Linked DNA regions of Homo sapiens: region 2 is linked to region 1. Evidence: fine-mapped QTL for protein levels in blood plasma. Region 1 holds a variant in brackets. A gene starts in the other region. All regions are shown on their forward strands.

Region 1 (4,400 bases):
CCAAGGTTGGAATGCAGGAAAAAATGTTAAGTGCAGCCAGAGGGAAAGGTCATGTTACCTAAAAAGGGAAGCCCATCAGACTAACAGCGGCTCTCTCTACAGAAACTCTACAAGCCAGAAGAGAGTATGGGCCAATATTCAACATTCTTAAATAAAAGAATTTTCAACCCAGAATTTCATATTCAGCCAAACTAAGCTTGATAAATGAAGGAGAAACAAAATCCTTTACAGACAATCAAATGCTGAGGGATTTTGTCACCACCAGGCCTGCCTTACAAGAGCTCTGAAGGAAGCAGTAAATATGGAAAGGAACAACCAGTACCAGCCATGGCAAAAACAAAGCAAAATGTAAAGACCATTGACACTATGAAGAAACTGCATCAACTAATGGGCAAAATAAACAGCTAGCATCATAATGACAGGATCAAATTCACACATAACAATATTAAGCTTATATGTAAATGGGTTAAATGGCCCAATTAAAAGGCACAGACTGGCAAATTGGATAAAGAGTCAAGACCGATCAGTGTGCTGTATTCAGGAGACCCATCTCATGTAAGAAGACACACATAGGCTCAAAATAAAGGGATGGAGGAATATTTACCAAGCAAATGGAAAGCAAAAAAAACAAAAACAAAAACAAAAACAAAACAAAAAAGCAGGGGTTGCAATCCTAGTCTCTGATAAAACAGACTTTAAACCAACAAAGATCAAAAAAGACAAAAAAGGGCATTACATAATGGTAAAGGGATCAATGCAGCAAGAAGAGCTAACTATACTAAATATATATATGCACCCAATACAGGAGCACCCAGATTCATAAAGCAAGTTCTTAGAGACCTATAAAGAGACTTAGACTCCCACACAATAATAGTGGGAGAATTTACCACCCCACTTTCAATATTAGAGAAATCAATGAGACAGAAAATTAACAAGGATATTCAGGACTTGAACTCAGCTCTGGACCAAGCTGACCTAATAGATATCTACAGAACTCTCCACCCCCAAATCAACAGAATATACATTCTTCTCAGCACCACATAGCACTTATTCTAAAAGAGACCACATAATTGGAAGTAAAACACTCCTCAGCAAATGCAGAAGAACGGAAATCATAACAAACAGTCTCTCAGACCATAGTGCAATCAAATTAGAACTCAGGATTAAGAAACTCACTCAAAACCACACAACTACATGGAAACGGAACAAACTGCTCCTGAATGACTACTGGGTAAATAACGAAATTAAGGCAGAAAGAAATAAGTTCTTTGAAACCAATGAGAACAAAGACACAACGTACCAGAATCTCCAGGACACAGCTAAAGCAGTGTTTAGAGGGAAACTTATAGCATTAAATATCCACAGGAGAAAGTGGAAAAGATCTAAAATTGACACCCTAATATCACAATTAAAAGAACTAGAGAAGCAAGAGCAAACAAATTCAAAAGCCAGCTGAAGGCAAGAAATAACTAAGATCAGAGCAGAACTGAAGGAGATTGAGACATGAAAAACCCTTCAAAAAATCAATGAATCCAGGAGCTGGTTTTTTGAAAAGATTAGCAAAATAGGTAGACTGCTAGCCAGACTAATAAAGAAGAAAAGAGAGAAGAATCAAATAGACACAATAAAAAAAATGGTAAAGGGGAGATCACCACTGATCCACAGGAATACAAACTACCATCAGAGAATACTGTAAACACTTCTACGCAAATAAACTAGAAAATCTACAAGAAATGGATAAATTCCTGGACACATACAGCATCCCAAGACTAAACCAGGAAGAAGTCGAAACCCTGAAAAGGCCAATAACAAGTCCTGAAATTGAAGCAGTAATTAATAGTCTTAACAACCAAAAAAAGCCCAGGACTAGAGAGATTCACAGTCGAATTCTACCAGATGTACAAAGAGAAGCTGGTACCATTCCTTCTGAAACTATTCCAAACAATAGAAAAAGAGGGACTCTTCCCTAGCTCATTTTATGAGGCCAGCATCATCCTGATACCAAAACCAGGTAGAGACAAAACAAAAAAAGAAAATTTCAGCCTAATATCCCTGATGAACATCGACGCAAAAATCCTCAATAAAATACTGGTATACCAAATCCAGTAGCACATTAAAAAGCTTATCCAATATGATCAAGTAGGCTTCATCCCTGGGATGCGAGGATGGTTCAACATATGCAAACCAATAAACACAATCCGTCACATAAACAGAACCAATGACAAAAAACACATGATTATCTCGATAGATGCAGAAAAGGCCTTCA[A/G]TAAAATTCAACACCCTTTCAAGCTAAAAACACTCAATAAACTAGGTATTGATGGAACATATCTCACAATAATAAGAACTATTTATGACAAACCCACAGCCCACTTCATAGTCAATGGGCAAAAGCTGGAAGCAGTCCCTTTGAAAACCAGCACAAGACAAGGATGCCCTCTCTCACCACTCCTATTCAACATAGTATTGGAAGTTCTGGCCAGGGCAATCAGGCAAGAGAAAGAAATAAGGGGTATTCAAATAGGAAAAGAGGTAGTCAAATTATCTCTGTTTGCAGATGACATGATTATATATTTAGAAAACCCCATCATCTCAGCCCCAAAACTCCTTAAGCTGCTAAGCAACTTCAGCAAAGTCTCAAGATATAAAATCAATGTGCTAAAATCACAAGCATTCCTATACACCAATAACAGACAAACAGAAAGCCAAATCATGAGCAAACTTTCATTCACAATTGCTACCAAGAGAATAAAATACCTAGGAATACAACTTACAAGGGATGTGAAGGACCTCTTCAAGGAGAACTACAAACCACTGCTCAACAAAATAAGAGAGGACGCAAACAAATGAAAAACATTCCATGCTCATGGATAAAAAGAATCAATATCATGAAAATGGCCATACAGTCCAAATTTATAGATTCAATGCTATTTCCAACAAGCTACCATTGACTTTCTTCAAAGAATTAGAAAAAAACTACTTTAAATTTCTTATAGAACCAAAAAAGAGCCTGTATAGCCAAGACAAGCCTAAGCAAAAAGAACAAAGTTGGAGGCATCACGCTACCTGACTTCAAACTATCCTACAAGGCTACAGTAACCAAGACAGCATAGTACTGGTACCAAAACAGATATATAGACCAATAGAATAGAACAGAGGCCTCAGAAATAACACCACACATCTACAGCCATCTGATCTTCAACAAACCTGACAAAAACAAGCAATGGGGAAAGAATTCCCTATTTAATAAATGGTTTTGGGAAAACTGGCTAGCCATATGCAGAAAACTGAAACTGGACCCCTTCCTTACACTTTATACAAAAATTAACTCAAGATGGATTGAAGATTTAAATGTAAGACCTAAAACCCTAGAAACCCTAGAAGGAAACCTAGGCAATACCATTCAAGACATAGGTATGGGCAAAGACTTCATGACTAAAACACAAAAAGCAATGGCAACAAAAGCCAAAATTGACAAATGGGATCTAATTAAACTAAAGAGCTTCTGCACAGCAAAAGAAACTATCATCAGAGTGAACAGGCAACCTACAGAATGGGAGAAAATTTTTGCAATCTTATCCATCTGACAAAGGGCTAATATCCAGAATCTACAAGGAACTTAAACAAATTTAGAAGAAAAAAACAAACAGCCCCATCAAAAAGTGGGTGAAGAATATGAACAGACACTTTTCAAAAGAAGACATTTATGTGGCCAACAAACATATGAAAAAAGGCTCATCATCCACTGATCATTAGCGAAATGCAAATCAAAACCACAATAAGATACCATCTCATGCCAGTTAGAATGTCGATCACTAAAATGTCAGGAAACAACAGATGCTGGCAAGGCTGTGGAGAAATAGGAACACTTTTACACTGTTGGTGGGAGTATAAATTAGTTCAACCATTGTGGAAGACAGTGTAGCAATTCCTCAAGGATCTAGAACCAGAAATGCCATTTGACCCAGCAATCCTATTACTGGGTATATACCCAAAGGATTATAAATCATTCTACTATAAAGACACATGCACATGTATGTTTACTGCTGCACTATTTACAATAGCAAAGACTTGGAACCAACCCAAATGCCCATCAATGATAGAATGGATAAAGAAAATGTGGCATGTATACACCACGGAATACTATGCAGACATAAAAAAGGATGAGTTCATGTCCTTTGCAGGGACATGGATCAAGCTGGAAACCATCATTCTCATTCTCAGCAAATTAACACAGGAACAGAAAACCAAACACCGCATGTTCTCACTCATAAGTGAGAGTTGAACAATGAGAACTTACGGGCACAGGGAGGGAAACATCACACACTGGGGCCTGTTAGTGGGGTGGGGGGCAAGGGGAGGGATAGCATTAGGAGAAATAACTAATGTAGATGACGGGTTGA
Region 2 (4,399 bases), not on the chromosome of region 1:
ATTTAGGTCAAAGAGAAAAGACAGGTTTTAGCTACAATACAATAAGAGCTTGTACAGATGTGGTTTTTATTAGAAGGCCTTTTGCATATCTGTGTTTCATGGCCCGAGGCTGCCCTTATAAAGCGTTCTGCACTTACCGTTTTGGGAAGCAGTTGTTCAAACACAGGATCTCTCAGGTGGGTATCACTGCTGCCTCTGTCTCAGGTCAGTATAGGAGTTTTGATGTGAAGTCAGCCAAGAACAGCTGAACACTACTTCGGCTGAGGCCCTTTTATAGGAGGGATTGCTTCCTGTGAATAATAGGAGGATATTGTCCACATCCAGTAAAGAGGAAATCCCCAATGGCATCCAAAAACTTTCCCGGGAATATCCACGATGCTTAAAATTACAATGATGTCAGAAACTCTGTCTCTTGAAGCTACTTCACCTTTGTCCATGCCTTTATATCGTATATGCAATTTTATTAATATGACAAAAATGCATGATTTTTAATTATAATAACATAAAGTCTATGTCTTTAAAAAGTTGTAAAACTTTGCTTGTTAGTAGTGTCTCTCATGTAGTTGTGGTAGTAATTAGAATTTCAGAAACAGAAGGAAACCAAGAATAGGTTTGTCATCCATAGTCTACTACCTTCAATTTCTCATTCATAGCTGTGGATAACCAATCACTACTCATTTTTTCTTCCTTTTTCACCTGCCAATTCAACATATTTAACATGCACTGTCTCACAGAGGAATGACTCACAAGGTAGATATTAATCTTCAGATTTTGCACGGCAGTTATGCCTAAATTAAAATATTATCTAAAAATAATATCTAACACTCAAATGGTTAAAATAATGCCTTATTTTAAAAAAAGAAAAATGGGAAATAGATATTTACATCTGGGAAAGTTTCATGGTTTGTTCAGTGAAAAAAATAAAAAGGAGGCCAGGCACAGTGGCTCACGCCTGTAATCCCACCACTTTGGGAGGCCGAGGCAGGCGGATCACCTGAGGCCGGGAGTTCAAGACCAGCCTGACCAACATGGAGAAACGCCATCTCTACTAAAAATACAAAATTAGCTGGGCATGGTGGCGCATGCCTGTAATCCCAGCTACTCGGGAGGCTGAGGCAGGAGAATCGCTTGAACCCGGGAAGTGGAGGTTGCAGTGAGCCAAGATCACGCCAGTGCACTCCAGCCTGGGAAACGAGTGAAACTCTGTCTTAAAAAAAAAAAAAAAAAAAGAAAAGAAAAGAAAAAAAATAAAACGGAAAACTATATATATATATTTAATTGGTCAAAATTTTGTTTAAAATTTTTGAAATGTTAATGTGCAAAGAATAAAAATTCTTCCACAATGTTAACAGTGACTAACTCTGGATGGCAGGATTTGGGATAATTTTTATATCCTTCATTATTATTTTCAGGATTTTAAAGTTTTTTTCAATTTCCCTTTTTTTCACCTTTATAGTAACAAGAATACAGTTTAAAGAAACTTGTCTCTAGGCCAGGCATGATGGCTCATGCCTGTAATCCCAGCACTTTGGGAGGCTGAGGTGGGTGGATCACCTGAGGTCAGGAGTTCCAGACCAGCGTGGCCAATATGGTGAAACCCTGTCTCTACTAAAAATACAAAAATTAGCCGGGGTGTAGTGGCGCATGCCTGTAATCCCAGCTACTGGGGAGCCTGATGCAAGAGAATCGCTTGAACCCAGGAGGCAGAGGTTGCAGTGAGCTGAAATCACACCATTGCACTCCAGCCTGGGCGACAGAGCAAGACTCCATCTCAAAAAAAAAGAAAAAAAGAAAAAGAAAAGAAAAGAAATTTGTTTCCAAATGCAACAGAAGGAGATGTATGTGGTATCCTATATTCCTGCTCTTCATTTTGACATTTCTTCTGGGTGATTGTATACATTCCCCATCTCTGCATCTTACCCTATCTAAATGATGGTAACAGTAAATGGGGATCATTTTAATTTCCATATTCTGTAGGTTTTCAGAGCTCAAGTCAAGCTAATATTCTATATCTACAGCCTTTCAAAATAGGAGGTCTATCTAAAAATGTACTGTCAGCAGACCTGAACGAGTAGTGGTAAAAGCCTCGTTTTTCTCTTTACTTGTTAGCACTGGTCTTTCTGTGTTCATAAAGATGTCAAGACCCAAAAAAAAAACAAGAAAAGAGAAGAAAAATTCCAAAAAAGACAACTGATTAGAAAAAAATAACTTAATTAACGAATTTAATTCAACCCCTATCAAAAAGCATAGAATTTATTCCCTCCACCTTACCACTCTCTTACATGATCCAGATACTGACATTATTCCAATTCTTTATCCCACTTTACTTAGCTCAATGTGGTTGTTGCTTCAATAAATTCAGAAGAGTAATCACTCATATAGTGTTTATTTAGATTTTAGGGCAGAATGTCAAGTTGGGTTAATACATTATCTGTATGTATTTTATTTTTAATAAAGTATGAATACATAATCTGCTATTTTTAAAAAGCATGGTCAAATGTATAGAGTAGCCAAATCTTAAAAAACAATTTATCTTCGATATCAATAAAGTACCTAATAATTATATTGCTAATAGAAATTAGTCGTTAACATCCCTAGATAACTAACTTTATTATTGCGAATTTTTCATAACTAAGTTTATAGTTTATCTCTTCCCCTTTTTAAAATTAGTTCAAAGATATCTAAAAATAGCCCCAGTGGTGATGAAGTTTCTATTTTACTTACATATATATGTCCTGGACCCCCAATTATAATCTCTAACATTTATTGAGTGCTTACTATGTGCCAGGCCATATTCTGAGCATTTTGTATGTTCACCTATTGATTATTCAATCCGTACAACAGCCTATGAAATAGGTACTCCTATTATCCCCATTTTACAGATGAGGAAATTGAGAATCTGGGGATTTTATCTCATTCAAAAGCACAGAGCTAAGGGTTGAAACCAGGCAGTTGATATCCAGAGCCCACTCCCTTACCTGCTACTCCAAACCATGATTTCTTTTGTTGTTATGCCCCGAGATTCCTTGTTCTACCCAAGTTTCCTGTACTCTTCTTGCCCTCTTCTTCCTGAGACATCCTTGACCATCACAGCTCTCCACTGAGATAACTGTGTCCTGGGTTCTGAGACATGGGGGCTGGAAGGGACCCCAGGGACAGTGAGCAGTAGGGAGAGGATGCAGTGAGAACAGACCCTGGATCCCCGGTGCATAGGCAGGGAGAAAGTGGACAAAGGAAAAAACAAGCAAGGCAGGTGGAGCCATGCCTAGGTAAAGTTGATCCCTAAGCCACAGTTCCCAGAAGTTCCTGATTCAAAAGCAAATTTTCTCTAAGGTCAAAGGGCAAACTGATTATTCTAAATTCTAAACTGATTATTTCTAAATTGAGAAAGCTTCAGGGAGAGATCCCAATATTCGAAGGATAAGAGAAATGAGGAGTGGAAGAGATAGGTGAGTAACAGTAACTTAAATGTAGACTATATATAATATATAATATATGTAGAGTATATATATATAATTACAATATATTATATATGTGGAATATATATATTATTTATATATATTTATATATTTTATATATATAGATATTTTTATATTTTATATATAAATATAGATATTTTTATATTTTATATATAAATATAGATATTTTTATATATATTATATATAAATATATGTAAAATACTGTGAAAGAAGAATAGAATCTTGAGACCTCAAATTCACTATGCCAAAGGGAAAGTTAAGCTTGGGAAATGAGTCATGCAAAAACTGCCTTCCTTTTGTTCCCAAATACCTGTAATTTCACATGCTTACTTTATCTTATATAAAATGTAGATGTACTGAGCATGAGATCCATGCATAATTTCCCTCTAGTCCCTTCTTTTTACATGTAAAGTGTAGACTCACTGAGTGTTACAGAGCCTTGCCACAATGTAAACACTTGTCTCATTGCCAACCCATCTTTCGTTTATTTTCTTCCCCTCCTGCTTGCTCTTTCCCCTCTAAAGATGGAAGTTCCCAAAACTCTCTTTGGAAAAAGCGCAGGTCACAGATCCTACAGTGATTTGTGTTTCTTTTACCTGGGACAAAATAAACCTCTAATCTGTTGAGATATGCTTCAGTTACTTTTTGGTTTACAATATGTACATGTATGTATATAATTTATATGTATATAATATATGTACTTGTTTTAACCAGAGGTATGTTATTCAAAATCCATTCATCCTTACAATTACCTGCATTCTCCCACAGTATTTTCTGTGTCCCTGCCCCCGAGGTTGTCACTGCAAATCAGGTACATGGATACTGGGAGCTGATGGGCTCCCCTCTGGCTACCTGGGCTGCTGAAGGGGCCATAGACAGACCCAGCTTTCCTCTCGTGGAGAGGCCCTGGGCCAGCGCTG

Alleles and levels. Alleles are on the strand shown, and positions count from the first base shown. The strength of an association depends on the size of the effect and on how common the allele is.
With allele A in place of G in region 1, the plasma level of the protein whose gene starts at base 246 in region 2 is lower (weak association).

What was found. A credible set is the group of variants that fine-mapping cannot tell apart. PIP is the chance, under the fine-mapping model, that this variant and not a neighbour inherited with it causes the effect. Protein levels are from antibody-based Olink assays in UK Biobank. Linkage for the fine-mapping came from a reference panel and not from the study's own genotypes, which makes the PIPs less certain.
Region 2: SELE starts here. The variant in region 1 is the best candidate, but not a certain one, in a credible set for the plasma level of the SELE protein (UK Biobank, PIP 0.71).

Annotation. Positions count from the first base shown.
Region 1 is chr4:102,274,659-102,279,058 of GRCh38, forward strand. The region is part of intron 6 of SLC39A8 (solute carrier family 39 member 8); the gene reads right to left. Among named protein-coding and RNA genes, the nearest start is that of SLC39A8, 69 kb to the right of the region's middle. The variant A/G (reference allele first, on the strand shown) is at 2,267.
Region 2 is chr1:169,733,834-169,738,232 of GRCh38, forward strand. It overlaps SELE (selectin E), which reads right to left and starts at 246. Exons shown (of 14, transcript NM_000450.2): 1 at 138-246.